Regions from separate parts of the Homo sapiens genome. Here all the other regions are linked to region 7. The links come from fine-mapping of genetic effects on gene expression. A gene starts in region 7. Each other region holds a variant in brackets. All regions are shown on one strand. Distances are from middle to middle. Region 1 overlaps RTN4 (reticulon 4). Region 2 has its middle 41 kb from the start of RTN4. Region 3 overlaps EML6 (EMAP like 6). Region 4 overlaps EML6 (EMAP like 6). Region 5 overlaps RTN4 (reticulon 4). Region 6 overlaps RTN4 (reticulon 4). Region 7 holds the start of RTN4 (reticulon 4).

Region 1 (4,472 bases), 39 kb before region 7:
ATCTGGGCTTTCAAGGGGGAGGAAAAGGGATCAAAATCACTGATTGGTTATTACAAGGACAAAGGTTAGTGACTTAAATATAGACATGCATTTAAAATTACTGCGTAATTATACTGTGTAATTTGAATGATTTCAAGATGCACATAATCTGATTAAAAGAAAGTTGGTAATAATTTTAAAGGTTCAAATCAGATTTTCAAAGAAGAGGCTTACTGCAAACACAATATCTTGCTACCTACAAACCTTTGCACAGAATTTCAACTACACCAAGTAAGGTTTTTTAAAATAGTCACGGAAAATATGTCACTGTGAAACACAAAAACAGCAATGTGTATTTACCACATCCAAGTGACGAACAAATGAAATCTGTTAGATCTATATTGTTTACAATGTGCAAGATTAGAGAACAGAACCTAAACGGCAGGACTGAAAAGACTAAACCGAATGCCAGTGAAACAGAACAGCATGACATTTTCTGGTATACAACCAAATGTAAAAACACGTGAGATAGCCGTTTTAATCCTTTAGACTTCAACTCTTCAGAGGTTTCACTTTCAATCCAAAATATCTAAATTCCAAAGCTTATTCATAGAAATATATTAGTGGTCACATATAAAAACTGAATAAGAAATTAAAAAGCAGATATACCCTTGTCCTTCCAATTTTTCTTCTGACCGTCCATCTCTTGTCACGATCTGCTTTGCAGCTCCAATTATTAATTATGCATACCAACAGAAAAGCTGTAACTGCACAAACCTACTCCCTGAGACATGAAATACCCGTTTCCTCAACCGAAGTCTGCAGTCTCCTCTGCTGCACAACTGCAGCAGGACTGAAGTCACCTGACGTCTTCTGGGTGTGGAACAGTCTGACGCAGTGCAATCTGTAACTAGGCTACTAATACTCCAGCATTAATGCTTTCCTTCTATCTGTTGATTGTTTTAGGCATTTGCCTTGTTGCTCATACCAAATGGAGCTGCATTTGCAGGGAGAGGGCAGGCTACCAAAAGAAAGGAAATAAGGGTTGTTCTTAGAACTAACCACTGAATGTATCTGAAATGCAATTAAAGCCATATGCAGTTTTTTTTTCTTTCTTTTTTTAACAGATGGTCGAATTATGCTACTGGTTTTCAGTTTCATTTAAAACTCTAAAATTAATGGTTACCTAATAAGATAAAAATGGACTGATCAAATATTAATAGCCTAAATTTCAAGCTTGTGAAATGATGAGTCTCCTTAATTGCTCCTAAGTTCATTAAGACGTAAAACATTCAGCATTTTGCACCTTATGAAGAGATAAACAGAAAATAAAAGTCAAATTACTAATGTTTATTGAACATATTATTTGAACAGAAAACTTTAGCAACTTAATCTTCCTAATATCTTTTTTCCTCTTTTACAATTATGGAAATCCAGAGACTTACAAACATACACTTACTCTTAATCATCATCTGCTCCAACTCAATCTTTGAATATTTATTAGACACCTCTACAGACAGTATTAATAGATTCTTAGCTTGGGGAGATATATTCATGGGCTAATGATATAATCTGCCATGGGAAAATGACATAAAAGCAAACTATAATTTTATTTTATTTTTTATTTTTTTCTGACACAGGGTCTCGCTCTGTCACCAAGGCTGGAGTGCAGTGGTGCAATCATTGGTCACATGGCAACCTCAACCTCCCAGGCTCAAGAGATCCTCCCATCTCAGTCACCACAGGCATGTGCCACCATGCCCAGTTAATTTTTTATTTTTACACTTTTTTTAGAGATGAGGTCTCCCTGTGTTGTCCAAGCTGGTCACAAACTCCTGGGCTCAAGCAATTCTCCCACCTCAGCCTCCTAAAGTGCGGGGATTACAGGTATGAGCCACCACACCTGGCCTAAAATTTTACTGAAAAATATAAAAACAAATCTATGTACAGCATTTTTAAAATCTGTGTTCAACTTTATAAAACTGATTTTCATTCCAATGCAGTGTCTCTACTTATGTTCCACAATCAATTCACCTGATACTTATATCTGCCTAAGCAGAAAAGGCACTAACAAATCAGCTAAAATATTTTAAAATGCAATTTGCGAAAATACTATAAGATACGTAGCCTATGTACAAAAATACATACTTAAGACTGTATAGCTAAAATGAAATAGAGATAATATTTTCTGGAACCTGCTATCTGTGGGCTGCAAAATCCTTAATATCAGAAGTGGCTTGATATTAATATATACTCCTATTATGTACCCAAAAAAACTAAAAACAAAACATGTAAGA[C/G]TTAAACATAGAAAGAACTAAAATTAGGAAAATGAGAGGGGAAAAAGGAAGTGGCTTGAATATCAATGACACATTTATTTCCCTATCTGCCTCTCTAACTCCAAACATAAATAAAGAAAAGTAATTTTTAAAAGAGCCCAGTATTCTCAGCTCGAGTTAATATTTAACTTTAAACTTTATTCACTGAACCCCTGCATAATGTGATATTTGAGAACCCGGTCAGCAAGCCATATCATGGCCTGAAAATGTCTGGCCTCTCCACGCAACATTCAGAATCTCAAACTATTTAGTAAATACAAAATACTGACTTTCTAATAACAAGTCCCTTAAAACTGAAAGCCAATAAATAACGAGCATTAGAATAAAACACTCAACTATAGTACTCAAACACTATTTTCAAGTCAGAGATTACTTCACTAGTAGAAGAAAAAAGTTTTACTGTGATCAAGTTACTCGGCACTTAAGACTACTTGTATCTTCCGTGGTACTTGATTTGGCTTAACAATTAAAGAAAAAAGTCTGAGAGGGGCAAGAATGTGTAATAAGACATACCCACTCATCTAAACATTAAACATACTTAATAGCACCCCTGACAGATTAAAAAGTCAAAATAGGAGCCCTGAAGTTTAGTAAACATTTCAGCCTACATAGTGACATCTACTTCTTTAATTTTTATGGTCTTTGTAAGTGTACAAGGAAAACTAGCTTGTGGAAATCAACTGACATTTTGCCCAGTTCTTTCTCACAAAGTTTTTCAACTAGACTTGTTTTAAGTTTGGCAAGTTAAGCAAAAAAGTGCTTAAATCTGAAAAACTGATATGACACAAATTTGTTAAAGATGTAAAGCCAGATGGGCTATGTTTATTATGAAAATCATATAATCTCTACTAAAAATAGAAGGCTTTAGGACATTGCCTGACAAAAAGTAGGCACTATGTAAGTGCTATTTACTTATCAGTATGCTAAAAATAACAATCAAACTAAGAAGCAACAAGACAAGTAAGGCACATCTAAGAAAGCTCATATATTAAGTCCTTCAACTCTAGGCAATAACCCAATCTTTCTAAACAGAATTGCCCCCTCTCATACACAAACTATTGTCGTTGCTGTATAGTTCTATTATTTTCCAGCTGAGAAAAATGTACATCTGCATAGTTTATAGGTCCTATTCCACAATGAACCCCAACTTAACAAGTCAAATAAAGAAAGGACATAAATCTGTTAAAAACTTATCTTCATTTATTTTGTTTTCCTTCAACTACCTAACTTTTAAAAAAATTAATTCTTTTGAGGACAATTTTCAAGTAGAGCACATGTCTCAACTTGCAGAATGGCATTTTGACTATTTGAGACAGGAACCTCTTTTCCCATAAAAGCAAAGGCTCACAAAGGAGAGGCCACAGAAAACTCCTTTATTTATACTGCAAGCCAATAAAAGTGTTGTATGAATTCTAAGCCCTATTTCATATTGTGTGTTTGTGGAGGGGAGAAGAGGGGAAAAGTATTCTCCTTTTCCTGAACTCAAAATCAGCTTTATACAGAACTTTTGAAATAAACTGTTCAAAGTTCATATTTGGCAATTTCCCACTCCTCAATGTCCATGTCCCCAGTATCCCCTTCTCCCAAGCATGACAAAAAAATCAAAGATGAAAACTTGCCCAAATACATATCCATAATGTCTTTCCTTTGCATCTTATGAAGGGATAAGCTCTAAAGGGTAATATGCTGTAAAATTACCTACACGGTTTCTTTTCTCACATCTCAGACCAAACCCTCGTTTCCTTCATGCACTTACCTGTTAAGTAGGAAATACGCATAAATCAATTCCTACTAAACAAGAAACTCTTTTATGACCTCAGAAACTGTGTGTATGTTTTTTGGTGGGTTTTTTTTTGGGGGGGGGGGAGGGTGTAGGGGGGGTGGTATCTAACTGGCAAGATTTCAGACAGTAGAAAGTTATATTTTAGATTTTAGAACAGGCAGCACTAGGCAAGGTGTTAAGTCCACCCCAGCCAGCTCTTATTCTAAGACATTCTTCCTTTTCCATTTCTTTCTTTCCTCTACTTCTGCACCCAGGAAAAACTCAGGTTTTTGTTTTGCTTCGTTTTTCTTTACAACATTTAGAGATGCAAGGGAAAGAGGGTGGGAAAGCAGCAATCATTTGGATTGAAAATGCTACTCTGAAAGTTAGAGACT
Region 2 (4,472 bases), 41 kb after region 7:
TTCCGGCATGATCTGCCAGGTAATTAACGGATTTATCAATTACGGAAAAATCTGTCTCCTTGTCTGGATGTACTTAAAATTCAGCGTTTAAGGGACAGAGACGTCCTGCTCCAACTAAGTGAATGTTGTCAACTGCATGTCTAGTGCTTTAGCTATTTCTGTTTCTAGTCGTCATTTCCCAAATCTGCGAAATGCAAACACTTGAGATACAAGCCCACCTCCAAAGCAAGGCCATTCTACAAATTGCCTTCTTCTGGCCACCACTCTTCAGCACAGCACTGTGGTCCTTGTGCCTGGGGAGGAGGTCTTATTCCTCTCCTTGTCACTGGCCTCTCCAGGCATGTGGTAAAAAGGTCCCCCTGGGACACCTGGGGCATGGAACATTTTCCCCATTACTGAGATCACTGACTGACAGCAGCAACTAGACTGACTCCCCTCCCCTGGTCCCCACCCCAAGCAGCTGTCTGAATGTTAGAATAGGCACGAGGAATTGTTAAAGTTGAGAAAGGCTTACTTTTCATGAAGAACACATGTTTTCTAAGGAGAGATTTATTTAATGAAAGTCTTTTTTTTCTCCTGAGTCTTTGGTAGATTTGAATTGTAAAATAGATCTGGGGCTGTTTTGAGTAGGATGGGGCTGTTTTGAGTGGAAGGATAGGGCTGGAGTGGAGACAGCTGAATTCCTCTACCTGGAGAAGTCCAGTATCTGCGAATAGGAGGTATGATAAGGCCATAGAACTATCCCCAAATGTCCCCTAGGTAGAGTGGCCCAAGACAGTTTAAAACAGAGAGACCCAATATTCCACTTAATATAATTTGGGTTACAGTATTACCTTCACACTATTTCCAAACACACACGCTCACATCTGCTTCCAGCAAATCTTTAATGCAGTTCCCTGCACACTCAATATCTTGACTGCGTATGGACATAGAGAAAGTGGCTGAATTTCCTCTCTGAGAAGAGGACGTCATGGAGGAAGAAGAGATAGTCCCTAAACGGAGCCAATTCAACCAAAGCAGAAGCTGGAGCTACAGAAGGCAATGAGAATGAAGTCTCCACCTCCCCTCTATCCACCTGGAAGTTTCGCCAAAATCATCTCAAGAGCTTGAGAATTCCATGAAATATGGAGTAGGGCTTTGGACCCATTCTAAAGGACAAGGAGGACTACAGCTGATGGTTCCCAAAGACCTGTCTTCCGCACTGACCCAGGGTCCAATTGCTCATACAATTTCTCCTCTTAGATATCTAATAAGTAACTCCCATTTAAAATGGCCAAAAACCAAACTCGGCTCCACCCCCTAAACATGCTTCTCCCTCAGTCTTTTCCACCTCAGTTACCAGCCCCACATCCACTCAGTTGCTCAAGCCCCAAATCTACGAGTCATCCTTGGTTCTGCTTTCTCTCATTCTCTCTATCCAGGAGATCAGCAGGCCTTGTCAGTCCCTCCTCCAAGACACATCCCAAGTTGACATTTTTCAACTTCTCTGCACATCTCCATTGATTCCACCCAAGAAGTCTCAGCCACCAGTCCTCAACTGAACTCCCAGTTTTGCTCAACTGGCTAGAGCAAAAACCTCCCTAACCAGTTGCCCTGTCTTTCCTCTGGCCACCAGTGGCCTTTTCACTACCTGGTGGTAGCAGCCAGAAAGGGGTGTGTCTGTGTATAAATCGGACAGTATGGCTCCACCATTTACAATCATTCATGGCTTCCCATTGCAATCCAA[A/G]TTCCTCTCTGTGGCCTAGGGGGCCCCACGTGATTGGGCCGTGTTTACCACTCTGACCTCTTTCTTCCTCCATTCATAGGGTGTCATCCACACTGGGCCCTTTCTTCCCACATACACATAAAGCTTCTTGCCTCAGAGCCTCCGTACATGCTATTTTTCTGCCTGGAATGCTTTTCCCTTAAATTTTCACCTGTCTGCCCCAATCCCTAAACTTCTAGCCCCTGCTCACTCTCTACCCTTTATCTTATTTTCCTGTAACACTTACTTGTTGCTTGATTACAAATTTTTCATCTTCCTGTCCTCATTAGAATGTAAGCTCAGGCCAGCTGCAGTAGCTTGTACCTAGAATCCCAGTACTGTGGGAGGCCGAGGCAGGAGGATTGCTTGAGCCCAGGAGTTTGGGACCTGCCTGGGCAATATAGCAGGATACTGTCTCTCCAAAAAGAAAACTTTTTTTAATTAGCCAGTGTATTAGTCTGTTTTCATGCTGCTGATAAAGACATACCCAAAACTAGGAAGAAAAAGAGGTTTAGTTGGACTTACAGTTCCACATGGCTGGGGAGGCCTCAGAATCATGGCAGGAGGTAAAAGGCATTTCTTACATGGCAGCGGCAAGAGAAAAATAAAAAAGATGCAAAAGCGGAAACCCCTGATAAATCCATCAGCTCTCGTGAGACTTACTCACTATCACGAGAACAGCACAGGCAAGACTGGCCCCCATGATTCAATTACCTCCCCCTGGGTCCCTCCCACAACATGTGGGAATTCTGGGAGACACAATTCAAGTTGAGATTTGGGTGGGGACACAGCCAAACCATGCCAGGCTTGGTGGCACATGCCTGTAGTCTCAGCTACCTGGGAGGTTGAGGTGGGAAGATTGCTTGAGTCCAGGAGTTTGAGGCTGCAGTGAGCTGAGATGGCACCACTGCACTCCAGCCTGGGTGACAGAGTGAGACCATGACTTAAAAAAAAAAAAGGAAGCTCAATGAAGGGAGAGATTTTTTTTTCTTTTCTTTTTTTTTTTTTCGAGTTGGAGTTTCCCTCTTGTTGCCCAGGCTGGAGTGTAATGGCATGATCTCAGCTCACCGTAACCTCCACCTCCTGGGTTCAAGCAATTCTCCTGCCTCAGCCTCCCTAGTAGCTGGGATTACAGGCATTCACCACCACCCCTGGCTAATTTTGTATTTTTAGTAGAGACAGGGTTTCTCCATGTTGTCAGCCTGGTCTCAAACTCCCAACCTCAGGTGATCTGCCCACCTCGGCCTCCTAAAGTGCTGGGATTACAGGCGTGAGCCACCGTGCCCGGCCCGAAGGAAGAGATTTTTTATCTCCAGCTCCTAGAACACTACCTGGCAGAAAAAAGTGCTCAACACAAACTTGTGGAATGAGTATACCTGAGTTTCACTTGTTTCCTGCTTGCCCTCTGTCAGAGGCCACACCCAATTGTGGCACCTGGTAAAAGCCTCACTCATTAGAGTTTTGTCATTTAACTCCTTCCTGTAAGCCAGGTAAAACTGACCACATATATATGTAGATGCCCTTTTCCAATTTCAGTTTGGGGGCTCCCCTGGAGAAAGCAGAGGCCTCACACTAGAGCTAGAAGCGGCCCCAGGAAAATTCACATGGGGTGAAGTTTTATTCTTTCAAAGTAGCCAGTTTTGCCCCTTCGCATTTTCTTCTTCTTCACAGACATTTTCCCAATGGGTAAAACTTTTTTGTTTGATTTTAAAAATTCACTTTTTCACTTATCTATTCAGTGTTGCTTACTGAGTTCTGACCACTAATAAAAATAACCATTGTGTGTGTGTCTATGTGTGTGTGTACGTGTGTAAAATATCAGAAGATAAGAGCCTTGCATTGTTCTAAGAGCTGCTTGAAAATGTCTGTGTTTTGATAGCTTATGATGCACATTCGTGGGCCAGCCAATTATAGTGACAGCTCTTTAATGAAGAAATGTCATACACATTAATATAGAATTTGTATTTGCTCTTAGTAATACCTGTAAGTGCCTAGTTCAACAGTTTTTGTGGTTGAAATGCTAAAAAATACAACTGAAATGCTGTTGAACTCTAAATGGCTAAATGCATGTATACCTGTATGTTGTTTTATTTACAAACACATAAACATATGTGTGTATTTTATACTTAAATAATTTATTCTATATATATTTAATTTATTTTATATATATATAGAATAAATTAAGCAATAATGTCCCTGGGCCCAAAGAAAGTATTCTTCATTCTCCTGTTACGCCAGAAAGGTGTTTATTATGCTGAGGGAAGTTCTTGCACTCATAACCTCTAAGTGATTCCGCAGCATAGCTTAGAGGTGATGCTTCTTCCGGAGGAAGCCCTGAGTCATTATCTGCATCTTTCCTGAGATCTGGAGAGTACAAGGGTACCAACACCTCTCCCTCCACGAGGCCAGGGGGGATTAGGAAAGAGTCAGAGATGAAGGAGAAAAGGAGAAGAGAAATTGGTAAGAGGAAAAAGGGTAAATGTCTCAATTGTTTCCTCCTCTGATTACAGCCAGAGGAAGGCAGTCTGAGGGCCCCTTAACTAACTCCCTGTTAAGGTCTGGCAAGGATATAATGCATTTCATTTAGCTATGCTTCTGTTACTTGAATGGTTTGCTTTTTCTAAGGGAAATAGAATTGGGAAAGGAATTATAAGGAAGAGAATTTTCTTGCTTTTATTCTATTTATAAATGGAATATGAGAGGGACATGGAAATAGCATGAAAGAGTC
Region 3 (4,472 bases), 78 kb before region 7:
AGAAGTTACACAACTGCTCCCATAATCTGGACTCTCCAAAACCGTGATGCCACGAAGGAAGGTCAAGTTTTAAAATGTTAAAGACTGCTTGCCTCTGTTCCTGAGACTAAACAGTATACATACTAACTACATTGACAAAGAAATCCTATCTGATAATGTAGCCCGCTGACGAATTTTGAAGCCTCGGTTACCCTAACCAATATGTAGCTTTTAATTTGCATCAAAACTTTTACAAAGATGTTTTGCTATTGTTTCTATATACTTCAAGAATGTTCATTTTTACAAATAAGTTGAACAAGACAGCCTAAGTTAGATGCACCGAAGTACTAGAAATATCGCTAGCCTCTGTTCTCCAGTTTAGCTTTCAAAACCAAATGAGCCATGTATAAAGGAGTTGAGAAACTTAATTTTTAAATGTTTCATTTGCAGAGTTTTATATCCATTAAGTGCCTTTGAAAGTTTCCAGTTGTGTGGGCTGCTGTCTCACCTCCCACCAATTTCTCCTTTCTCCATATGGTGCTAAAACCTCAAAGCTGAGGAGGGCTGCAGGACCCTTAGCAGATTCAGTGTGTCACCCTTGTCCTGTGTTCACGCCAAGGCTTCCTAAATGAAAGACATCGGTTACCTGCTTATGGGAAGGTGAGCAGCAAAGGAATTGAAGTTCGGGACAGGGTAGAATTATGGGTTTTCATTGTGTTTCATGCCAAACCCACAAAATCCAAAATAGAATTCAAGTTAAACAAACTTCTACTACAAAATGGAAGGGGAAAAAGGCTCAGGAAGGTCTATGAGAATGAGCTGACTTATCTCGTTAAATCTTAAGATAAATGAGGGTAACCCAAGGCTGCACCTTGGTGTACCACCCTGAGTGGAGTTGAGGTGACTTCATTTGATTGCTTCAGGCGAACTATATAGGTCAAGTCCAGATTATAAAAAAATTATCTGCAGAACAAATTGTAAACCCAAGGAATAGCTGGTAAATCAAAATTATAAAGTGAGTTAGAGTTCCTTGGAGTTGGTTGTATGACGGAATATGACTTGGACAATCTTTACCAGAAGCCATCCGTAAGCCCCTCAGTCACACTTTCCATGTAGCTGACCAGTGACTACAGGATGTGGCTGACAGTGCTCACTGAAAGGAGAGTTGGTGCGGGACTGGTGGTTCTGAGCACATAGACGCCTATTAGTCCTTCTGGTCAGTGAACGAAAATTCTAGACCTACAGTTACTGGCTACTTGCATTTGTCAGTTTAGAGAAAAGGTAAAATGAGGCATTTTCAATTGTAGAATAGACTAACATTTACCACAGAAGTGCTTCAGCATTCTAAATGGATTAGATCACTCATTAAGCTATTTTTATATGCCAATTTACTAATGCCTTACATCAATCCACTAATAGGTTGTTGGGCCCGCAGTAGAGTCCCTATGCAGTCCCAATTCTGTTTTCTGTAACCATGTGACTGGTGATGCAGAGTGATAACCATGTCTGCCTATCTTGTACTAGACTCTTCATGCTGATCGGATCTTGCATTGAAATAACCATGTGGAAGAACAATGAATCGATTAATGATGACATGTACAACCATATTTAAAGAGCAATAGTGTCCGTGTGTCATGAAAAACTTATTTGTAAACGTTTATATGGTATGATTTTGATTTTATGTATGTTCATAAATCCTGCACTGTATGATATATGTGAGTTAAAACATTGGTGCATGAATTTATTTTCAAAGTATAAAACACATCACTTAAACATTTTATGTGTCAAATAAAATTTGATTATGTAAACACATTTGTTGACTTTTGTTTCCACAGTAAACAAACAAACAGCTGCACCATCAGCTGAAAAAAACCCTTCTAAAAGCACAAGCTACCATTCGCTGGTTGAAGCAGTTTACCCACTGTGTGCATTTTTAATCTGCTGCAATTTCATGAAATGAAAATACCAAAGCATATTTTAAGTCTATAAGCTTTATTGATACTTTGCTTTTACAGTTCACAATGCATTCCACAGATTTAGTTCAGTACAGCTTAAACCACAATGGTATAAATCTTCATTTTGTAATTAATAATTTCTTGCATAACAATGTTTGATATTTGCAAACAAACAACATTTTTGGAAGCATTAGATTCAGTCCATAGATTCTGTGACAAAATTAACTACAGTCAGTCTGTGCAATGAAATTGATGTTGGAGTTCTATGTGTGTGGCATTTCATGTTGAAAACAGATGGTAGTGCTCCTAGAAATATTTCTTCTTCTAGCTTATGTGCTTTGGAACTACACATGTATAACCAATGACTGACTCTGAAATATCAAGCACTGTGGGGTGGCTGGAAGGTAAAGGTCTAAGCTTTGTGAAACACTATACATATATAATCTATATTTACTTATATTGGCAATTAATATAACAGTAAAAGTCACAATACACCTAGAACATACCAGAAAAGCAAGCTTTGTCATTCCTGCTTTACCGGTATGATCTCGTCTAAACAAACATTTCATTTCAGAAAATCTGCATCAATCTACACGGACCATACACAGTGCACAAACTGAAAAGGGCTTTTTTTTTTTTTTTTCTAGCTCCACCATCTCTGCAACTTGCCAAGATGCGGCAAGACTATCTGCAACAAAGTAAAATATACAGGTTTTTTATTCCACCAGTGCCT[CAGAT/C]AGATAGGAAAAAGATATGATTACGGTTTAAATCCATACATAGCAGCTTACAATACTTAAGATGATGAACACATGGCAGTCAAGACAGGTAATTTTTCCTCACAACAGTGCATGGCTAAAAATAAAGATCTAACAACGATCTGTGAAACTGCACTGCAACGTCAAGGTTCGTTCTTCCCTGACCCTCCCCCGTATAATCAAATGAATATCCCCTTTAAAGATGAACTCCTACTAATTATTTTGGGCGTTTTCATTCAGCTTTGCGCTTCAATCCAGGGATTTTTGCTTGGATTCTGAAAATGAAAAAGTCAATGTAAATATCAGTTTTGTTTGCTGCTGCTTAAAATACCATCTTCCAAGAACTACTTGTATGTTATTCAGCTAATACAATAAATGAAATCCTTAAAGCTGCCTAATTCTAAGCTATAATTTTGCCACCTTGGCCTCATGAATTAGATTTAAACAAAGCCTTAAACACATAATAAACCCAGAAACGAATGGTCCAAATGTTAGAAAAACAATCTTTTGGCAACTCTGAAGTCACACTTAAGGTCTGATAGAGATTTGTTACTCATTATGCCTGCAATATGAAAATACTGTTCTCACAATCCAGCACACCTTATCCTAGTAAAAACACTGCAGATTTTAAATACTTACTTAGCCATAGCATCTTTAACATTCTTATTTGCAAGTCCTAGATAATGATCTATCTGTGCCTGAAAGAGAGGTATAAAGGAATTATTACCGTTGCTAAAGAATCTTATTAACCACTACTATGTGTCAAGCTAAAGGCTTAAGAAACCATCACACTTCTCATTTTTGTAAGACATTGAAAATGGGCACTAATACATCCGTAAATCCCATGTAATAGAGTGAGTGCTCTATTCTGAAGTCAGCAGTTAGTTAGGAAATTACCTGATGCCGTTCATAAATAACAGGAACACTGAAGAGTGAAATGAGAGCTGAAAAGGGAAATATACAACTTTTCAAAAAGAACGGAATGATTTGGGAGGAATAAACACTCAAAAAACTATTAAACTGGCAACTCAAGATAACCAAGCAGTGTTCCTAATGAATGAATAAAAACATAAGGATCTCTGGATGCATCTGCTGTTGAGGAGCCACTCCAGAGGAATGAATGAACTGTGTGAGGCTGCAGTTATTAGAGCTAGGAACCATTTCTAGCTTCAAATCATATCACAGTGAGATTTCATAAAATAAAGGTATCCCTGGTTAGATTTATGACTGCACCATCATATAAAGCCACCCTTTATCTGGTTTATCACTGTTTGTTAGTAGGAGCTGTCTTCAGCAACTAAGGTAGCATTTCAATAAACCGGGAAGCAGTATCACCAACTTATTTAAAGAGAATACAACCTCAAACTTATTTTGAGATGGAGTTTCACTCTTGTTGCCCAACCTGGAGTGCAATGGCACGATCTCCGCTCACTGCAACCTCTGCCTCTTGGGCTCAAGTGATTCTCCTGCCTCAGCCTCCGGAGTAGCTGGGATTACAGGCGTGCGCCACCACGCCCAGCTAATTTTTTCTATTTTTAGTAGAAATGGGGTTTCACCATGTTAGCCAGGCTGGTCTCGAACTCCTGGCCCCAGGTGATCCGCCCACCTTGGCCTCCCAAAGTGCTGGGATTACAGGCATGAGCTACCGCGCCCGGCCCACATTTTCATCCCCTACTTTTCATACAATGAGAATATTCTCCACTAAAATGTCTAAGCTCCTGGCACACAATCTTTCCAGCAATTTTTCATCCCAATGGCTTTGTAGACTTACCCAAAATCAGTA
Region 4 (4,472 bases), 95 kb before region 7:
CAAGTACAGAAACGTGGTGGCCACCAGCCAGATAGGTAGGAGGTCCTGTGGCAGCTGAGGCTCTCCCAGCTTGCAGGGACGCTGACCTGTCAGCAATTATTGGGAGAGGGAGTGGGTGGGTTGCTTACATCCATCCCTTCTTGTTGATGTTGCTGTTGATTTTTTGAGTCCTGAGTGTATCTGTGTCACCTGCGTTGACACATCCAGTGACTGTGATTCTGAGGGACCATAAAGTCTGACCAGCGCCTGAGAGTCCAAATAAACGTTGGCCCCCATCCCTGTGGACTTGTAAGAATAGTTTTTCAGACCCCAAGTGTCAAGAACTCCGTGTCTTTTGAAGCTGGTTATTGTGCTTGGCCAGGGTAGGTTTCAGTAAGTGTGCCTGGACCCCCTGTGCCCTGGGAAACTGCCGGTGACAAATGTGAACTGATTCACATTTATGAGAAGTTTGTTTTCACTTAGTCATCTCGAGCAATTTTTACAACTTCCTGCTTGTTTTCATTGAATCATGTCCATTTTTAAGTTTAATTTGGAACTTTCTGATGCTGGTGTTGAGTGCTTCACTGTTGGAAACGTGACTTATTTTAGCTATTGTTTTCCCTTGACGCTTCCTCATTGCCATTGCTCACCCAATGCAGGTGATATTACGGAAACCCCAGGTAAGGCTGTTCCATCCGTGAGTAGTTTGAATCTGCAGAGCAAAATCATGTCATTCTATCATGTTTGCTGATTGTATCTTGCCGAATTGCAGATACAAATCATTGACCTCACCAGTTTCCTTCGTATAAAATCCTCTGCAAGTGTGTGTGTGTTGAACATAAATGTCCGTAGGGCTCTGCCTTTAAAAGCAAATTTCCTCTAGTCTTTCTCCTCTGGCCAGGTCAGGCTATAGGTCTCTTATGCCCAATGACTGTAACAGCCCTAAACATTTGTCTTAAAAAAGGCTTTTGCAGGCCGGGCGGCAGTGGCTCACATTTGTAATCCCAGCACTTTGGGAGGCGGGCGGATCACCTGAGGTCAGGAGTTTGAGACCAGCCTGGCCAACATGGTGAAATGCTGTCTCTGCTGAAAATACAAAAATTAGCTGGGTGTGGTGGTGCGTGCCTGTAATCCCAGCTACTCGGGAGGCTGAGGCACGAGGATCGTGTGAACCCAGGACGTGGAGGTTGCGGTGAGCTGAGCTGGTGCCACTGCACTCTGGCCTGGGCAACAGAGCAAGACTCTGTCTAAAAAAAAAAAAAAAAAGGCTTTTACATGAACATAAGCATCGCCTTGGCTCTGCCATTTGTCAGCCTTACTTCTTTGTCATGCCTCTCCACACTCAGGGACAACACCTTCCATCCACATATGGGACGCCATGACCAAACACACCCTCTCCATGCTGCGGTGCTTCCACTCCAAGGGGGTGAATTACATCAACTTCAGTGCAACTGGAAAGCTCCTGGTGTCGGTGGGAGTGGACCCTGAGCACACCATCACTGTCTGGCGATGGCAGGAAGGTAAACCAGCACTGGGCTTTCTGTCCCTCCAGGGTGTCTGCCTGTGGGTGTCGAGCCTGTGGGCTCGAACCCAGATCTGCCTCACTCCGAAGCCTGCCGTAGGCACTGACTGCTGCTGGGCAAGTGGAAAACAGGGCACTGGGGATCCTGGTATAGCTGCCCCACTGATGCCAGTGCATCCCAGGGTCCCAGGGCCAGGAGGAGGCTGGCCAGGGACTCCAGGGCCCATTAGTGAAGGGGCTCTGAGGAGGTTCCCCGATGTTGGCAGCCCTCCTCCTCGGAAGGCAGCAGCCTCCCCGACATCTGTCTTAGCCACCTTCCTACCCAAGGGTCCTTGTCTTCCGTGCTCTTTCTGATGGCCCCTGGATCCTACTACAGCCCTATCACTTTGTCTGCTTTATTTTAGGAAATGGGATCATGTTTTATCATAGTCTCAGAAACATTTAAATTTTTTTTTTAACATTTTAACACTTTTGAAATAGGGATTTATCTTACAATCCAGGTTTACATTTACTGTAACAGGATTTCTTTCTAGTCCTCCCCCAATACATGCACACACACCTCACACACATGCACACACACAAGCTGCAACTGAATGTGTGGTCATCTTAGAACTAAAGATGTGCAGTCCTCCTCATATATTCTCAGGTTGGGTACTGCCCTGGCAAGAGCAGATCCAATTAGTCAGAACATTAATGAGGTCTGTCTGCAGCTAGGCAGCCTGTATCTGGGACACGC[T/C]CTACCAGGCAAGCGCAGAGGTGTCACTTCTCCCATCCAGGGCTCTGGAGTCCCATTATCTCTGCATCTTCCCATGGAGGGGGTGGTGCGTGGAGGTTGTAAAGAGATCAGCACACTGGGGGAAAGTTCCAGTCACTCCTGAGCACCCCCATATGAGGAAAAGAGCCTGACAGCTTGCAGACATTTGTAATGATACCATATTCCTTCAGAAGGTGACATGATCTATAATGTTTCTAGGAAACCACATGTTCTCATTCTCTGGTTCACCAGTATATCTCACCCAGATGGCTGCACAGTCAGTATCCCAGGGGTGCAGATTCATTCCTTGTGATGTCAAGTGGCCAACTGATTGACCAGACTCAGCCCAGAGAAATTGAGCATCTTAAATGATAGACAGAGAGCATCTTGGAGTGGGAAGAACTAGAGAAGACTTCCTGCAGTTAGGACCCATCCTAAGGAGAAATTCCTTCAAATGCACCCCTTTGTCCTTTCAAGGGGTGTGGCTTTCAAGGACCCCTTGAATACTTTCAAGGATGTGGCTCTCCTCACTTCACAAGGCAGCCCACACGCTGTCAGAAAGCTCTTGCGTAAAGCCCCTTCTTATGTGGGGACAGAAATTGCTTCATTATATGTTTCTTCTGTGCTGCTAACTGTTCCTAGATCCTTGGAAGAAAGCTCTCACACTGGCCCCACTGCACGGCCTTGTCTTTTTAGGTTCAGGCTCACTGTCTTCACTCCCTCTACCTGTCCTCCAAGCAGTGCCTGCTTTGGCCTGCCCTAGCACAGACTCTTGCTCACCCAGGGTCCCTTCTGACCTCCCAGGGGAAGGTTAGAGGAGCCAGGGCTTTTAAACAAGCTCCCGAGGAAAAGAGGAGCCTGCTCTTGTTTGTACAGAGGGTTGTGAGCCAGTGCTGATATGTGACCTATCGCTAGCCACCACCTCTTCCGGGTTGACCACGGACATGTCATTTCTCCTCCCTTCCTTCTCCAGTGTGGGTTTGCCTTCATTTCAAGTCTTACTTACAGATAAATAGCATGTGTTTGGGGAGGTTTACATACATTTTATGTATCACTAGAGAGCCTATTATTCATTCTTCATTTATTAGAGGATTGTTTTGGGGAACGTGTGTGTGTGTGTGTGTAGGTAAAAATAAAATAGACCTAAAAATGAGCTTATTACATAAAATCCATGTCGTCAGGTCCTAGGTATATGTGTAATTTGCTCTGAGCAGACTAGAAGCCAATGCAGAGAGGGATACAGGTGTCTCCACAATTAGAAGCGTCCATGAAATTAAAACAAGGAAAATATAAACAGTGGCTTTGAAAAAATGTGCAACTCATTGTTTGTTTGCACTTCTCCCATGACTGGTGAGCTGGAATCTCTTTCCTTTGTTTGCACTTCTCCCATGACTGGTGAGCTGGAATCTCTTTCCATCTCATTGGCCACTTGTATTGGCTGCTTTTGTAATCTACCTGTTCAAATCCTTTTACTACTTGGAGTGGGAGGGTTGTCTTTTACTTATAATTTGTAGTTCCTTATAGATCTCTAATGTTAATCCTCTGAATCTTATAAGCATTGCAAGTGCTTTCTTCCCGTATGTTGTGTTACTTTGTTTATGGTATCCTTGGAGACTGTGGGTCTTAAAACCTCTGAGCCCTAAGTAGAGAGAGATCTGCTACAGTAAGTCAGAGATTCCATATGCAGAGAGAATTACAGCTGGGAGAAGTTCTCTGTGGGTCCCCCTAGCCTCGCCTGGAAAGAGATTCTGTTAGGGAGTATCAGAGGGGTGGCCACAGGCCCAGCTACATCAAAACCCACCACCATCATGGTACTAGAAAGCTGTCATAAAAACAAATGCGAAGTGATGAGAACGAAGAAGAAAAAAATAGGTGTGTGAATAATCAAGGGAGGGGTGACAAGAAATCGGAACAAAAACATTCAGAGTAAGTTAAAGGGTAACAGGTTTAAAACAAAAATTTAAAACTCGAGAGCTTAAAAATAATGAGATTAAAAAAGAGGTGAGTTTAAAATACAGGCTAAAAGAATAGAAGCCAAGAAATTTTAAAAGTAGCTAAAGGAGTGATGATAATACTATTACTACTACTACTAATACTGGCTAACACATGATCACTCAGAGTATCAAGCACTGTGCTCAGGGCTTCACTTACTTCAATTCTTTTTATCTGCACTGCACCTTCTGAAATAGGAACAATTATTAGCCCCATCTTACAGGT
Region 5 (4,427 bases), 31 kb before region 7:
ATATTTTAAACAAAATATCAACTCTTAGTATCTACAGTACTTCAGTAAAAAAACTCAAAGGCTATATATACTTTTTCAGAAAAATATTTTAAGTCGTAAGAATATCAAAACAATTCTTATTCATGAACATATGTAAGTTCTTATTCATGAACATATATAAGTTTGCAAAGCTAATTTCGTACTATTTACCTAGACAAACAAGCCCTTTTAAAGTGAGTGATCATGGTAATACTACTTGGTGAATCCTGGGTATTACATAGTTTAATTATAATGAACAAATAATCAATGTATGGTCGGTTTACACTTCACTTACCAATAGTTCCAATTAGTTCAGCAAGACACAATCTATATTTCGATTACGAACTAAAAATATTCTCTGTGCATTAGTGACAAGCAACCAACAAACATATATTAAGTTATCATTAAGTCAAGATCTCAGCAGTTTGGACAGGAAACATGAGCACCTTTCTGTACCAATGGCCTACCAACATAAACAGATGATAGCAGTTGTCCAAAGTAGGGTTTTTCAGTCTCCACATACTAGCAACAGAATGTTACCCTAGTTCCAATATCCTTACATATGTGAGAAAATGTAGATGGCAACCAACTTTCTTGACATCTTAAGATGTCAAGAAATGTCTTACATTGCCTAATGGTTCAACACAACAGATATATGATAAAAGCAGTAGCACCTTGATTGCCTGCTAAAGTTAGGACAATAACTGCTTATTCCAAAACCAGGAAATAACTGTGAACGGACAAAACCTGAGTTGGAATCGCAGTTCATTCTTGTGAAACTAGGTAACAACTAATACAAATAAGAAGTTAGCCCAATGTCTGAAACACGGCAGAAGCTCAAAAACATTGTGCTTATTACATAATTTACCAGGTATCCTTGAAAAAGTTACTTAACATCCTTAGGCTTAGATTTTATCATCTATAAAATGGTTCCTTCTTTCAGATTATGGTGAAGACCTAAATGAAACAAATATGTGAGAGTGCTTGTTGGTCAGAAGATGTTCCATAAATGATAGTCTTCCCTTTCCAGATAAAATGAGAAGAATTCAGCTTTTCTCAACACTTTAAAATTCTCAGTTAAAAACCTAAAACTGGGAGAAAGAAAATCTAGAACTGAAACAAATGAAGCTAATTGTATTTCAAATGAATATCATAGCCATTAGTCAGTGGGAGAAGGACGCAGGAAAAAGAAAAAAGAACAAACTAATACAAGTAATCTGTGAATAATGTATTTGACTATATACATTCCATCTTAGGCAGGGTTGCAGAGTAGGGATTTGCAAACAATCCAGAACTCTTTTATCAAGTTTTTTTTTTATTATAGTGATATGAAAAAAGCATTCTAAAACTCTTATAGGTGTATTAAAGGACTGGATATAAATAATGTATTGGTGGTCTTAGGAACCAGGGTTCTCACTATAAAAGAAGAGACAAATATGAAATCAGGAAAGAAAGAACAAACCCTGTGAGAATGGATTAGAATTAGAGGTATCTATGTGAACTCATTTCTTAAGTATGTATGTGTATGTGTGTATGTTTATTTTTATGTATGTATATAAGCATTTCCTAGCTTTATCCACTGAAAGGGTTAAAATGGAAAGATCCCCACAGTAGCAATGACCACAACTAGCATCTAGCTCTTGATCTTTAATACCTCACTATTATGAAAATGACCTCTCATTCTACATTAAAAGGAATCAGGCATCCTTGGAGAAATGGCTGATTCCAGGGCTGGGACACGGTAAGCATAAAATAGGCCTACAATATTTTGTTAGGCTAGAAAGTAAGAAATGCTCCCCTCCCAACCCCAAAGAAAGAAGGTTGCATGTCCCTGAGCCTACCTGAAGGAACCCTCAAAATATGCAATAATTTACCACCAAAATAATAAAGTTCAGTAATGAATCATAAACCATTGGAAAGAAAATGGAAATTCACGGATCCATACTGATAATTAATTAGCTAATTAATTCATTAATGGAAATGGAGGTCTGCTGCTTAAACAGGAATGCTGAGGGTCAAATGAAAAATGTACGGGGAGTACTGGAGTTAAAATCATTTTTCAACTCTCATGGTAAAGACTGGATCAAGCAAGAATCATCAATGGTTTACTAAATTGGAGGGGCGAATTTTGATAGGGAGCAGGATATCTGCATGTGTTCAAGTGTCACTCCTCAGACTGCTTATCATCTGCAAGGGAGAAACAAAGACAATATAAGGAAATCAGAGCTCATCTTGCCCAGACGGTCAAAATTAACATAACCAGTGAGGGACTGATGAATAGCAGATAACTCTAGAAGTGGTGCTATGAGAGGGACACATCATCATCTATACAGTATCATAAATGAACCCATAGCCTCAAATTAATCACTAGGAAACATCGGACAAATCCACTAGGAGGAATGTTCTATTATAAAGTCGGGGGAAGAGAGGCCCTGTGTTCTTTAAAACTGCTAATGTCATAACAAATAAATAAAGACTGAAATGGGAAGTCCTACCCAGAGCAA[T/G]TGAGCAAGAGAGAAATAAAGGATATCCAAATTAGAAAAGAGGAAGTCACATTGTCCCTGTTTGCAGATGACATGATCTTATATAAAGAAAAACCTAAAGACTACCAAAAACTTGTAAATTCTGTAAAGTTGCAGGATATAAAATCAATAACAAAAATATCGCATGTCTTTACACAAACAACAAACTAGCTGAAAAAGAAATCAAGTAGGAAACTCCATTTGCAATAGCTTAAAAAAAAATACCTCAGAATAAGTTTAACCAAGGAGGTGAAAGACTTCTACGAGGAAATCTACAAAACAATGATGAAAGAAATTGAAGAGGATACAAACAAATGCAAAGAAAGACATTCCATGTTCATGAATCATAAGAGTTAACATTGTTAAAAAATGGCCGTAATATCCAAAGCAGTCTACAGATTCAATGCAATCCCTAATAAAATACCAATGACCTTCTTCACAGGAATAGGAAAAAAAATCCTAAAATCTGTATGGAACCACAAGACTCCAAAAAGCAAAAGCAATCCTGAACAAAAATAAAGCTGGCGGAATCACACTACTAAATTTCAAAATATACTACACAGCTATAGTAACCAAAACAGCATGGTACTGGCATAAAAACAGAAACACAGACCAATGGAACAGAACAGATAACCCAGAAATTAATTAACATATCTATAGCCAATCAATTTTTGGAAAAAAAAAAATGCCAAGAACATTCATTGGGGAAATGCCAAGAACATTCATTGATACTACTACTGAGAAAAAAAATCAGTATTTACATTCCAATAGTAAGAATATAGTTTGTCACAAATTTCTTTGTAAATGGAGGGGGAGGAAGACCAGAATTCATTAGTTTCTTGACAAACTTTACTTCCCAAAATTAATAAAGCACCATCTGCATCACAATACCTTATTCATCTCTCTTGCAAAATCAATCTTTCTTCCCAAAACTAAAACTGATTTCTGCCTACAAAATGTCATTTTAAGAAAACAAGAACAGGAAAGTCCTGGAGGCTCACACCTGTAATCCCAGCACTTTGGGAGGCAGAGGCGGGAGGATCCTTGAACACAGGAGTTTGAGACCAGCCTAGGCAACAAGGCAAGACCTCCTCTCTACAAAAATAATTAGCCAGGCATAGTGACACGAGCCTTTGGTCCCAGCTACTTGGGAGGCTGAGGACCACCTGACCCTGGGAGGTTGAGGCTGCAGTGAGCCATAATCTCACCACTGCACTTCAGCCTGGGCGACACAGCAAGAACCTGTCTCGAAAAAAGAAAAGAAGAACATATGAGATAATAAATGATCTGAGGAAATTAGTATTTTATTATTTAATAGTTTAAATGTTTAAATGCATATACATTAATAAGACCCAGAATTTTTTTAAAAACACACTTAAATATTTCATAATTAGAGATGGCATAAAACTTTTAAGTCATCTGAGAAGAGAGCTTCCCTTATGTTTTATCAGACCACTGCTGTATTTTGGTACATTTGACTTCAGTACACTTGAACCTCCCTTTCACGAAGATACACAGGTAAGTACCTATCCTCACTATAACATAGATCACAATGTTTAACTATGTCCTCAACAGTGTGTCTGTACCAGCTGGCTGTAAGTTGCATAAAGCGCAAAACTTTGTCTTAGTTTCATCTTTTTCCCTGCCCCCCCCGCCAAAAAAAAATCTCATATAGTGCCTGATAGAAGCATGTTAAAGCAACTCTTACCTGCTTTTACACTTTTTTTTTTTTTTGTCTTTTTTTTCTCCCTTTTTTGTGGAGAACGGAGTCTCACTATATTGCCCAGGCAGGTCTCGAACTCCTGGGCTCAAGCTATCCTCCCACCTCTCCCTCCCTGAAAGCTGGGATTACAGGCGTAAGCCATTGTGACTGGCCACTACTTACCT
Region 6 (4,472 bases), 50 kb before region 7:
ACTGTTACCATGATTCTCTTTCATTGTTAAAGTTGTTAATTTCTTACTGTAACTAATTTATAAATTTAACTTTATCATAGTTATGTATAGATAGGAATAAACAGTATATATAGGGTTCAGTCCTATCTGCAGTTTCTAGGGCATACGCTAGGGGTCTTAGAGTCTTACCCCTCAAGAATAAGGGGGAAACTACTGTACTGATACATGTTACAACCCAGATGAATCTTGAAAACATATGCTAAGTGAAAGAAGCCAGTCACAAAAGGCCATATATTTTATGATTCTGTTTATATGAAGTGCCTTGAATATGCAAGTTATGAATTCTGTAGAGACAGAAAGTAGATAAGTGATTGTCAGGGGCTGGGGAAAAAGGGAAGAGGAGTGACTGCTAGAGGGTGTGGGGGGCTTTTTTTGGGAGGGGGGTGAAGAAAATGTCCTGGAAATAGATTTAAAACTTTAAAAAAATAGTCATTTCAACATACTTCTCTACTAGGTTGTAAACTCCATAAAAGAACATGTATGTCTTACTACCTAACTTTATCCCCAGAGCTGAGCAGAAAGCCAAAAACAACTAAATTTTCAATATTACTGTTGACTGATTAGAATGAATGAATACCTTATGACAGGTCACTAATTCTAATTGATTTATTTAAAAAATGTTTCTACGCTTTAGACTTAACATTTATTTTATTTACACTATTTTCAGATGTCTACATTTATTAAATAACAAATAATGCTTTCAGGTAATTTATAAAAAAGAAAACACTGTTTTGCAGGCTTGTCTCCCCTTACTAGACCCTGGAAAACTGATAAATGCCTTTCATCTTTATATTCCCATTACCTACATCATTAATGCTTGCTGCACTGTCTGAATAGCGGCCAGATTATTTTTAGAACAGAAACATTTAAATTCATTTTCAAATTAAAATAAAGGACACCTTTCAATAAGAACTACAGGATCACCAAAATGCTAATTTTGGATTCCTCAGTAATCACTTTAGTGGTTCCTTATTTTTGAAAAACCAAAATTAAGACAAAGAGTTTATACAGGGAAAGTTTAACTTTTCTTGGTTCCTCAAGTCTCCTTCTATACTGCAGAATAAAGGGTTAATCATACAAGGTAACCCTATTCTGTGGCCTCAACCTTACTCATACAAAATGTTCATTAAACATCCTTTCAAAGATCTGAGATGAATTTAGCAGTACTTTTCCATTTACAACTTTGGGGGAATGCTTATGAATTGCTAAAAATAATGTTCATCAATTTTAACAAACCCTTGTAGTTTAGAAAAAAGTAATTTATGCCCTGCAGTCCTTGCCGTTTGTCTCCAAGATAAAAATGTGAAAAATGACTGTGTGTAATAGCATCTTTATCAAAATAAAATTTTAATTCAAAATAACTCAGTACACTTAAATCTTTTCTTTAAAATAAAAACTTCTGGCTCAATGCACAGTAAGAAGAGCTGCCTACATTTGGTAATCACAAACTGTCATCTGCCATAGCTAAAAATAGTGTCAGCCTGCATTGTGCATGCCTTACGTGCAGAAGTCATCCAATTACATTTTGCCTCAAATCAAATTCTTACATTCTTCTTTGAACAGCCCGAAGTCAGGTTTCAATTTTAAAAAGCTTTTGTCTGGGAAGGCGGGGCAGTGGGGAGTTAAACTGGCTGTTCCTAAAAATACTAGGACAGGGAATGGCTGGCAGAAAAATACCTACTTTTGAAGCAAAAGCAAATATTAAGTTCTCTTTAATAATGCCAGGTGAGGAATGAGAATGGCAGTTAAATAGGAAATAAACAAATGAATATATAAATATTAGAACGGTATTAAAATTTCAGTTGTTTTTCACAACCATGTTTATAATAATAAGTAATTATATATTTATTAAGAATCACAACCCTTAATCAAATTCTTCCCAAATGCCAGGAAAAGTAATTAGAATTCAGAATTGAACATTTAGTACTACGTAATAGTAAGCTTTTGTCTCAACACAGTAAGCATTCACCTGTCAAAAAACTGACAGGCGAAGGTCCACAAAAAGGATCTGTGCAGAGTTTAGCTCTCTTCACAAAGACATTAAGAGGACCTTAAGTCCTATTTCTTTTGAGTCCTATTTCTTCCTTCAGGTTAGTATCAATATGATCTGAGAAGATAATGTAATCTCTGTTTCCCTGTGTGTAAAATTAGAAAAATAATACCCACCCCTAAGAAATTATTTGAAGCTGAATTGAAATTTCACATATGGAAATGCTTGGTAAACTGAACACACTGGTACTAAAGCTCAAGAGATAAGGTCAAGAAAGGCAATCAAATATTATATGTAATGCTTAGCTAAGCCCTGATTTTTTAAAAAAGGTGAATTCAACTTTCTCTGAAAGTATAT[G/C]TAAAGAGGTTTCAATTAGCAAGTCTCAGCCTGATGGGTACCTGTTACTGCTACAAAAGTATCTCAACCAAATACCTGGCAAGCCAGCATCTGTCTTGGCTATCTCCTCTTCCTTTAACTAGAGTTTTTAAACAGATACGTGCAAAATTTCAGGTCCTTGTCTCTTCCACTAAATCTTTCCTGTCTTACTTTGATAACGTTACAGTGCTTTGGCGAATTTGAACCACCACACCTAAGAAAATAACACTTTACATGACAAACAAATAGCACTAATAAACAATCAGCAAAATTTCTATACTTCCCCTTTCTACAATAATTTTGTAATCTCCCAGTCTGAGCAAGGCACTGTGCTGAGTACATTGTATACATTACCTCGAATCCATAACAACTCTAAAAAGTATTATCTGCATTACATATGTGATGCAAATGTATTTGTACATTTGTAATGTAAACATATTGTTAAATAAATTGTGTAGGGTTACAAACTGAAATTCAAGTCTGACCATGAAGGTCTCACTCTATTATACCTTTTGTATTTAAAAGACTATATTAATACTCAAGTTTCTTTTTATGCTACTTGAGAATACCAAATGCTATTTCTACCTTAGTTTAAATAATTGAGACAGGAGACACAATTTACTAACACTACGAGTAGAGTTATAGGTGAGACCAATAAATTTCATTAAGAGATTCAATAATAGGAATAAACCATGTTTTGTTTAAATTGTTTTCTAGAAGCAATCTGAATTGTTCTCACCTTAAAAATAAATTTATACTATAAATAACAATCTATGTAATTACATATGAACTATAAAAATAGATAAAAAAGACATTGGTGAATTTAAGAATGATATTAAAATTTTTAAATAAGCAATAAACTTGACAAACACAGCATATAAAGCAACGAAAATACCATTTCTAGAAAATCTCCAGGAAACAGAAGCCAAACATAAAGATGTGAAGTTAAGTCAATGTTTACTATTCATTTTATTAAAAAACCAATCCTACACCCAGGATAGAACCTTATTATTATTACTGAGAACAAACGGCCTTTACAATTAAAATCGTTGTAAACACCGAGTGTGTTTTCACACACATACTCCTTTCCCCACATAACATGAACTAAAAGATGGTTTGTGATTTAAAAAATATGCGTCTCTAGCTCTCTAGTAACCAACACTATTTGAGGAGTACAAGATTCTCTTACCCAAGTTTAGTATTGTTAAATGGTCCCTGCAGTTATGAAGTTGCATAGGAAAGAAAATTTTCATAAATAAGAAAACATCCACTAAGTAATCTTCAAAATTAATCCAAGCTCATAAATATCCCTTACTGTTTAAATTCACCATCCAGCCTCACTCATTACCTAAATGTCTTGTCAGATAAAACCACCCAAATCAACAGTGCAAAATTGCAAATCTTCCTATTAACATGAAATTCCACAAAGTTAATGTTGTGAGTGATGCTGGAGAATTGCTCCAAAAAACACTGACAGTCCAACAGGCACTTCAAAACGGAGCCTCTCACTTCAAAAGATTAGGAAGAGCCCCCAGGAAAGTACATTTTTAAACCACTGAACATTTTTTGTAAAGGGACATTATATATGACCCACTGTGAAATTCAACCATAAAGCAAAAGAAGCCATTTTGTGCTAGTATACAATTTTGTGGCAAAAATTACATTCCCCTAAATCCCAAAAACCTGATTCATCCTCTATGTATTCTAAAACCTTATGCACGGCTGTGATTATAAACTAAATTATGTTAAGAATGAACTAAAATAAATTTATTTTCATAGTTATTGGTTTTTATGTGCCAAGATAAAGTCAATCAAATCTTATTTTATTTATTTATTTATTTATTTATTTAAGACAGTGTCTCCCTCTGTCACCCAGGCTGGAGCAGAGTGGCATCATCATAGCTCACTGCAGCCTCGACCTCCTGGGCTCAAGCAATCCTGCCACCTCAGCCTCCCAAGTAGCTGGGACCATAGGCGTGCACCACCACACCAAGCTAATTTTTTAAAATTTTGTAGAGGCAGGGCCTCCCTATGTTGCCCAGACTGGTCTCAAACTCCTGGGCTCAAG
Region 7 (4,472 bases):
CTAAACATACCTAAAATAACACTGTACAAAGGATTAAAAGATGGCACACGTGTGCAGGGCACTGGCCATGAACAGAGCTTGCCAGCCTGGAAGCTGCTGTGGACGTGAGTAGTGAGTGAATGTGAAGGCCTAGGACATTACCATGTACTACTGTACAACTTACAGACACTCTACGGTTAGGCTACACTAAATTTATCTTTAGATATATTTTTTCAATAATAAATCAACCTTAGCTTACTGTATCTTTTCTATTTTATAAACTTTTTGGCTCTTTTGTAATAACGTTTAACTTAAAACACAAACACATTTTAAAGCTATAGAAAAGAAATTTTATATTCTTATTCTATAAGCTTTTTTCTATTTTTTTTTTAACTTTTGTTAAAAACTAAGATACAAACGCATTACCCTAGGCCTACACAGGGTCAAGATCAAGACGTCGCTAGGCGGCAGGAATTTTTCAGCTCCATTACAACCTTATGGAGCCACCGTTGCAAATGCGGTCTGTCCTTGACCTAAACGTCGTTATGAGGCACGTGACCGTATTTTGATTCTGTAACCTAAAACATATCCTTCTGAAAAACAGTATTTCTAACCAATATATATGAAAATGTCTGTCTCAAAACATTTCTCTGTGTCTCATGGTAAATCTGCCACGAGTTCAATTAGCCAATTCCTGGCAAGGAATCCACAGGTTTTCCCTTCTTTAGGAATGTCAACCATTTTGCCTTTTATTTTTTTCTGTAAGATTCAATTATGATGCACTAAGAGGCTGGGCCAAGTCCACACTAACAGCAATTCCTCCGACCCTGCAGCTGAAACCCCGGCAGAACTACGCCCCCTCGAACACAATGCCTAGATCCCCTTTCCCTGGCTCGGTTTAGCTGGTGGGGAGCAGTCCACATCACACCCCGGGGAGCTGGGCGGTGGCAGGACTTTACCAGAACTCTCTCCTTCCCATTTCTCCACGCACCACACCACTGGAGGCGCTCTCCCTTCACTGCGGTTGGGTCAATGTGGACGTTTTCCACTCGGCCAGCTCCCCACGAGCACAGGAGGAGGGGGAGGGGAAGCGCAAAGGGGCCACCCACGCCAGCCAGGAGGTGAGGAGGGAGCCCGGGGCAGAATGCAGGCCAACAGACCCGCAGCAAAACTGCACCTTTTCCAAAGGAGCAACCCAGACGGGTAGACAAAAGCACCTCCTAAAAATATCTGGGTGCCAAGGCCTTTCCTTCCTCACCTCGAAGCCCAACCAACCCGATAAATCCACAACCCTGGCTCTCGGGTATATACCCGGCTCCTACTACGGGTGGGTGCCTAACTTCCGAGAATCCGTACGCTGGGCATCACACAGGGTGAAAGTGGGAGCCGGGAGCGGTGCACGTGTTCCCCGAAACCAAGACGGACAATAAGAACAAACCCGGGCTCCAAGGGCCGCCCCACCCTTCTCCCCGCGCTTCCAACCAGACGGGGCGCCATCGCCCCGAAGTCCGCAGACAAAGCGCCCTCGGGGCGGAGAGGAGGGACCAGCCCAAAGCATCTGGGGCTGCACACAAAAGAGGGAGGGGCGCGAGGGGCGGCGCGAAGCGAGAGGTCGCGGCACTCACCCACTGAGCCCGAGGAGCCCCTGCGCTTGGGCGCGGCCGGGGTGGAGGGGGGCGCGGCGGGAGCCGGGGCTGGCGGGGTCCACACGGGCTCTGCCTGGGGGCTCACGCTGGCCGGGGGAGGAGGGGGAGGCCGGGCCGGAGGCTCGTCGTCCTCAGGGAGCTTGGAGGGCGAGACTGCGGCAGCAGACAGCGGGGATGGCGCGGGCACGGTCGACGACACCGGGCTCGGGTCCCAAGACGGCTGCCGCTCCGGGGCGACGGGGGGAGCGGCCGGCAGGGGTCCCCGGGGCGCCGGCGGCACGAAGTCATTTCCGAAGTCCATCAGGGGCGCGCCGGCGGCAGGGGCGGTGGGCACTGGGGCCGCGGACAGCCCGGCGGCGGGCTTCCTCTCCAGCACCTCCAGCTCCTCCAGGTCTTCGTCCTCGTCCTCCTCTTCCTCCTCCTCTTCTTCCTCCTCGTCCTCGGGCTCCCTCACGAACTGGTACTTGAACGCGGGCTGCGGCCGGGGTGGGCTGTCCGAGGACGAGACCAGAGGAGACTGGTCCAGGTCTTCCATGGCTGGAGGGTGGAGATGATGCTGCAGCTGCTGCCGCCGCCGCCGGGGCCGCGTCTCAGAGCCGCGGGCGGTTGTGGGGGTTGGGGAGGACTGAGAGGGGCTGGGCCGACTGAGCCGAGGGACCTACTGTGGTGACGGCTCCCGGAACAATGAGACTGCTCCTCCTGCCTCCGCGCCGGTGATGCGCCACCCGCCCTGTCCCCACTTGCCGCCGCCGCCCAGATGAGCTAGGAGTGAGGCCAGCGGACTCTCCGCCCAGTTTGGCGTGACTCACCCTCCCCAGGGGAGGGCAGGGACTGGCGCGGGAGGGAGAGAGCCAATCGGCTACAGGATCGAGAAGATAGGCGACCAGCCGGGCCAACAGAAAGGGAAGGAGATGAAAGTGGGTGGGGACTACGGCACTTCCTCTCTCTTACCGGCTGGGATTGCGTTCAATGGGCGGGGCTGAGAGCTGGGAGCTCCACCCCCACTTTGGGTAACCGTGAGTTGGGGTGGGGTCTTGGCCTTGCCCGCAGCTGGCGTCCGTATGTCGTTAGAGCACTGGGAAAGGGGGCGGGCTGCTGGCTGGGAGGGGTCGGCGCGGTTTCTGGCGCGCCACCGGAAGGGCGTTATCCTGGGGGAACTGAGAGTGGAAACTTTCCTCCCGGGAAAGGAAGAAACCCGACTGGAGAAAGGTATTAGCGGGACTGGGAAGTGGGCCCTAAGGATTTTTAAAGATTTTTGAAATAAAAGATTATTTGTTCACTCAAAGTTCCAAACTACATCACTACTACTACCACCCTAAAATAAGAAAAAAATTGTTTTTTGACAGTTAGGCTCACTCAGTCTAAACCGCAGCCCCCGAAATTGGGAGGAAAACAGCTGTGCTGAATTAACTAGGGATCTGGGGCCGACCATTTGAAAGTCTGCTCTTCTTCCAAAGAGAGTTTGGGGCCTTGCCTGCTGGACTCTTACATGGTAAGAGAGTGAGTCACCCAAAGAGAGAGGCAGCGGGGAGACAGGAAAGTGGAAATACAAAGATGCCTTGGAAAGCTAATTTGGTTCACGTTACATTTCAGTCACCTTAGGTTCATGAGTCAACATTTCGGATGATTCAGGCTTTCTGGGAGTCAGGAAGCCCCATAGTCATTGGTTTGATATGCAGGAATAAGCATGATCCCCATTCCACTTTTTATGAGGCTGGAGAGTTTAAAGAGAGTAGTTGCAGAACATCTTTGTAAGAATCAGGATCCTTTTATCTTTCTGATTTACCTTTCAAAAATATTCACTGCATGCCTACTCTGGAGGCCCTGGAGAGAAGAGGATAACCTGCTTTCAAGTTGCTCAAAGTCTAAATCTGTGCTGTACCTGACAGGTACTGGCTACTTGTGGCTACTGATTGAACACTCGGAATGTATGTAGCTAGGCTGAAATTAGATGTGCTGTAAGTGTAAAATGCGCACTGGATTTCAAGAATTAGTACCTCCGAAATGTAAAATATCTCAGCTTTCCTGTTGACTGAATGTTGAAATTGATATTTTGGATATATTGGGATAAGTATAATATTATTAAATTAATTTTACTTGTTCCTTTTAAAGCAGCTTCTAGAGTTTTTTAAATACATAATGGCTCACATTATATTTCTTTTGGACAGTGCTAGTCTAGATTAATAATTAAGAAAGTTTGATTGCCATGGGGAATCACTGGCAAATTCTTAGCTCCAACTAATTTATATTACTGTGGCTTAATTTGGGTATTAAAAAAGAAAAGTAAGAGTTGGAGGGAGGGATAAATAGGTGGAACACAGAAGATTTTGGGGGCAGTGAAACTGTTCTGTATTATCCTGTAATGGTGGATACATAACATTATGCATTTGACAAAACCCACAGGACTATACAACAGAAAGAGTGAACCCTAATGTAGACTATTGACTTTAGTTAATGATATATCAATATCAGTTCATCAGTTGTAACAAATGTACCACCTCAATGCGTTATGTTAATAATAATAGAGGAAACTGTGGTTAGGGGGCAGGAGTGAGAGTGTATGGGAACTCTGTACTTCCTGTTCAACTTTTCTGTAAACCTAAAACTGCTCTAAGAAATAAAGTTTATGAACCTTTAAAAAAGGAAAAGAATAAAGATTTCCTGGCAATGTTACTTGATTGGGTTAATTATCAACAATATATTCAAGACCTATCACATTAATTCCACGGAGAACTGGCTTTATTTGTGCAAAACGTTTGTGACTTGCTTTGAGTTTGGTGTTATTTTTTGGAGGGGTTGGGAAGAGTAGGAAGAGAGATGTATTGATGTAGAATTTTGGGGCGGGAA

What was found.
Region 1: its variant is fine-mapped to the expression of RTN4 in whole blood (TOPMed, PIP above 0.99).
Region 2: its variant is fine-mapped to the expression of RTN4 in whole blood (TOPMed, PIP above 0.99).
Region 3: its variant is fine-mapped to the expression of RTN4 in lung (TOPMed, PIP above 0.99).
Region 4: its variant is fine-mapped to the expression of RTN4 in nasal epithelium (TOPMed, PIP 0.98).
Region 5: its variant is fine-mapped to the expression of RTN4 in whole blood (TOPMed, PIP above 0.99).
Region 6: its variant is fine-mapped to the expression of RTN4 in whole blood (INTERVAL, PIP above 0.99).

What each region holds. Positions count from the first base shown.
Region 1 is chr2:55,009,439-55,013,910 of GRCh38, forward strand. All of the region lies in intron 3 of RTN4 (reticulon 4), which reads right to left. Among named protein-coding and RNA genes, the nearest start is that of RTN4, 39 kb to the right of the region's middle. RefSeq lists a silencer at 1,641-1,700. The variant C/G (reference allele first, on the strand shown) is at 2,277.
Region 2 is chr2:55,089,500-55,093,971 of GRCh38, forward strand. It overlaps a transcript of RTN4 not described here. Among named protein-coding and RNA genes, the nearest start is that of RTN4, 41 kb to the left of the region's middle. The variant A/G (reference allele first, on the strand shown) is at 1,727.
Region 3 is chr2:54,970,235-54,974,706 of GRCh38, forward strand. It overlaps EML6 (EMAP like 6), which reads left to right. Exons shown (of 42, transcript NM_001039753.4): 42 at 1-1,791. It overlaps RTN4 (reticulon 4), which reads right to left. Exons shown (of 9, transcript NM_020532.5): 6 at 4,461-4,472; 7 at 3,587-3,633; 8 at 3,329-3,387; 9 at 1,955-2,964. The coding sequence ends at 2,922. Among named protein-coding and RNA genes, the nearest start is that of RTN4, 78 kb to the right of the region's middle. RefSeq lists a silencer at 4,228-4,429. The variant CAGAT/C (reference allele first, on the strand shown) is at 2,668.
Region 4 is chr2:54,952,658-54,957,129 of GRCh38, forward strand. It overlaps EML6 (EMAP like 6), which reads left to right. Exons shown (of 42, transcript NM_001039753.4): 31 at 1-35; 32 at 1,326-1,499. Among named protein-coding and RNA genes, the nearest start is that of RTN4, 96 kb to the right of the region's middle. The variant T/C (reference allele first, on the strand shown) is at 2,238.
Region 5 is chr2:55,017,207-55,021,633 of GRCh38, forward strand. The region is part of intron 3 of RTN4 (reticulon 4); the gene reads right to left. Among named protein-coding and RNA genes, the nearest start is that of RTN4, 31 kb to the right of the region's middle. The variant T/G (reference allele first, on the strand shown) is at 2,523.
Region 6 is chr2:54,997,824-55,002,295 of GRCh38, forward strand. The region is part of intron 3 of RTN4 (reticulon 4); the gene reads right to left. Among named protein-coding and RNA genes, the nearest start is that of RTN4, 50 kb to the right of the region's middle. The variant G/C (reference allele first, on the strand shown) is at 2,387.
Region 7 is chr2:55,048,141-55,052,612 of GRCh38, forward strand. It overlaps RTN4 (reticulon 4), which reads right to left and starts at 2,311. Exons shown (of 9, transcript NM_020532.5): 1 at 1,605-2,311. The coding sequence starts at 2,160. RefSeq lists enhancers at 1,317-2,129, 2,092-2,141 and silencers at 1,632-1,751, 1,892-1,951.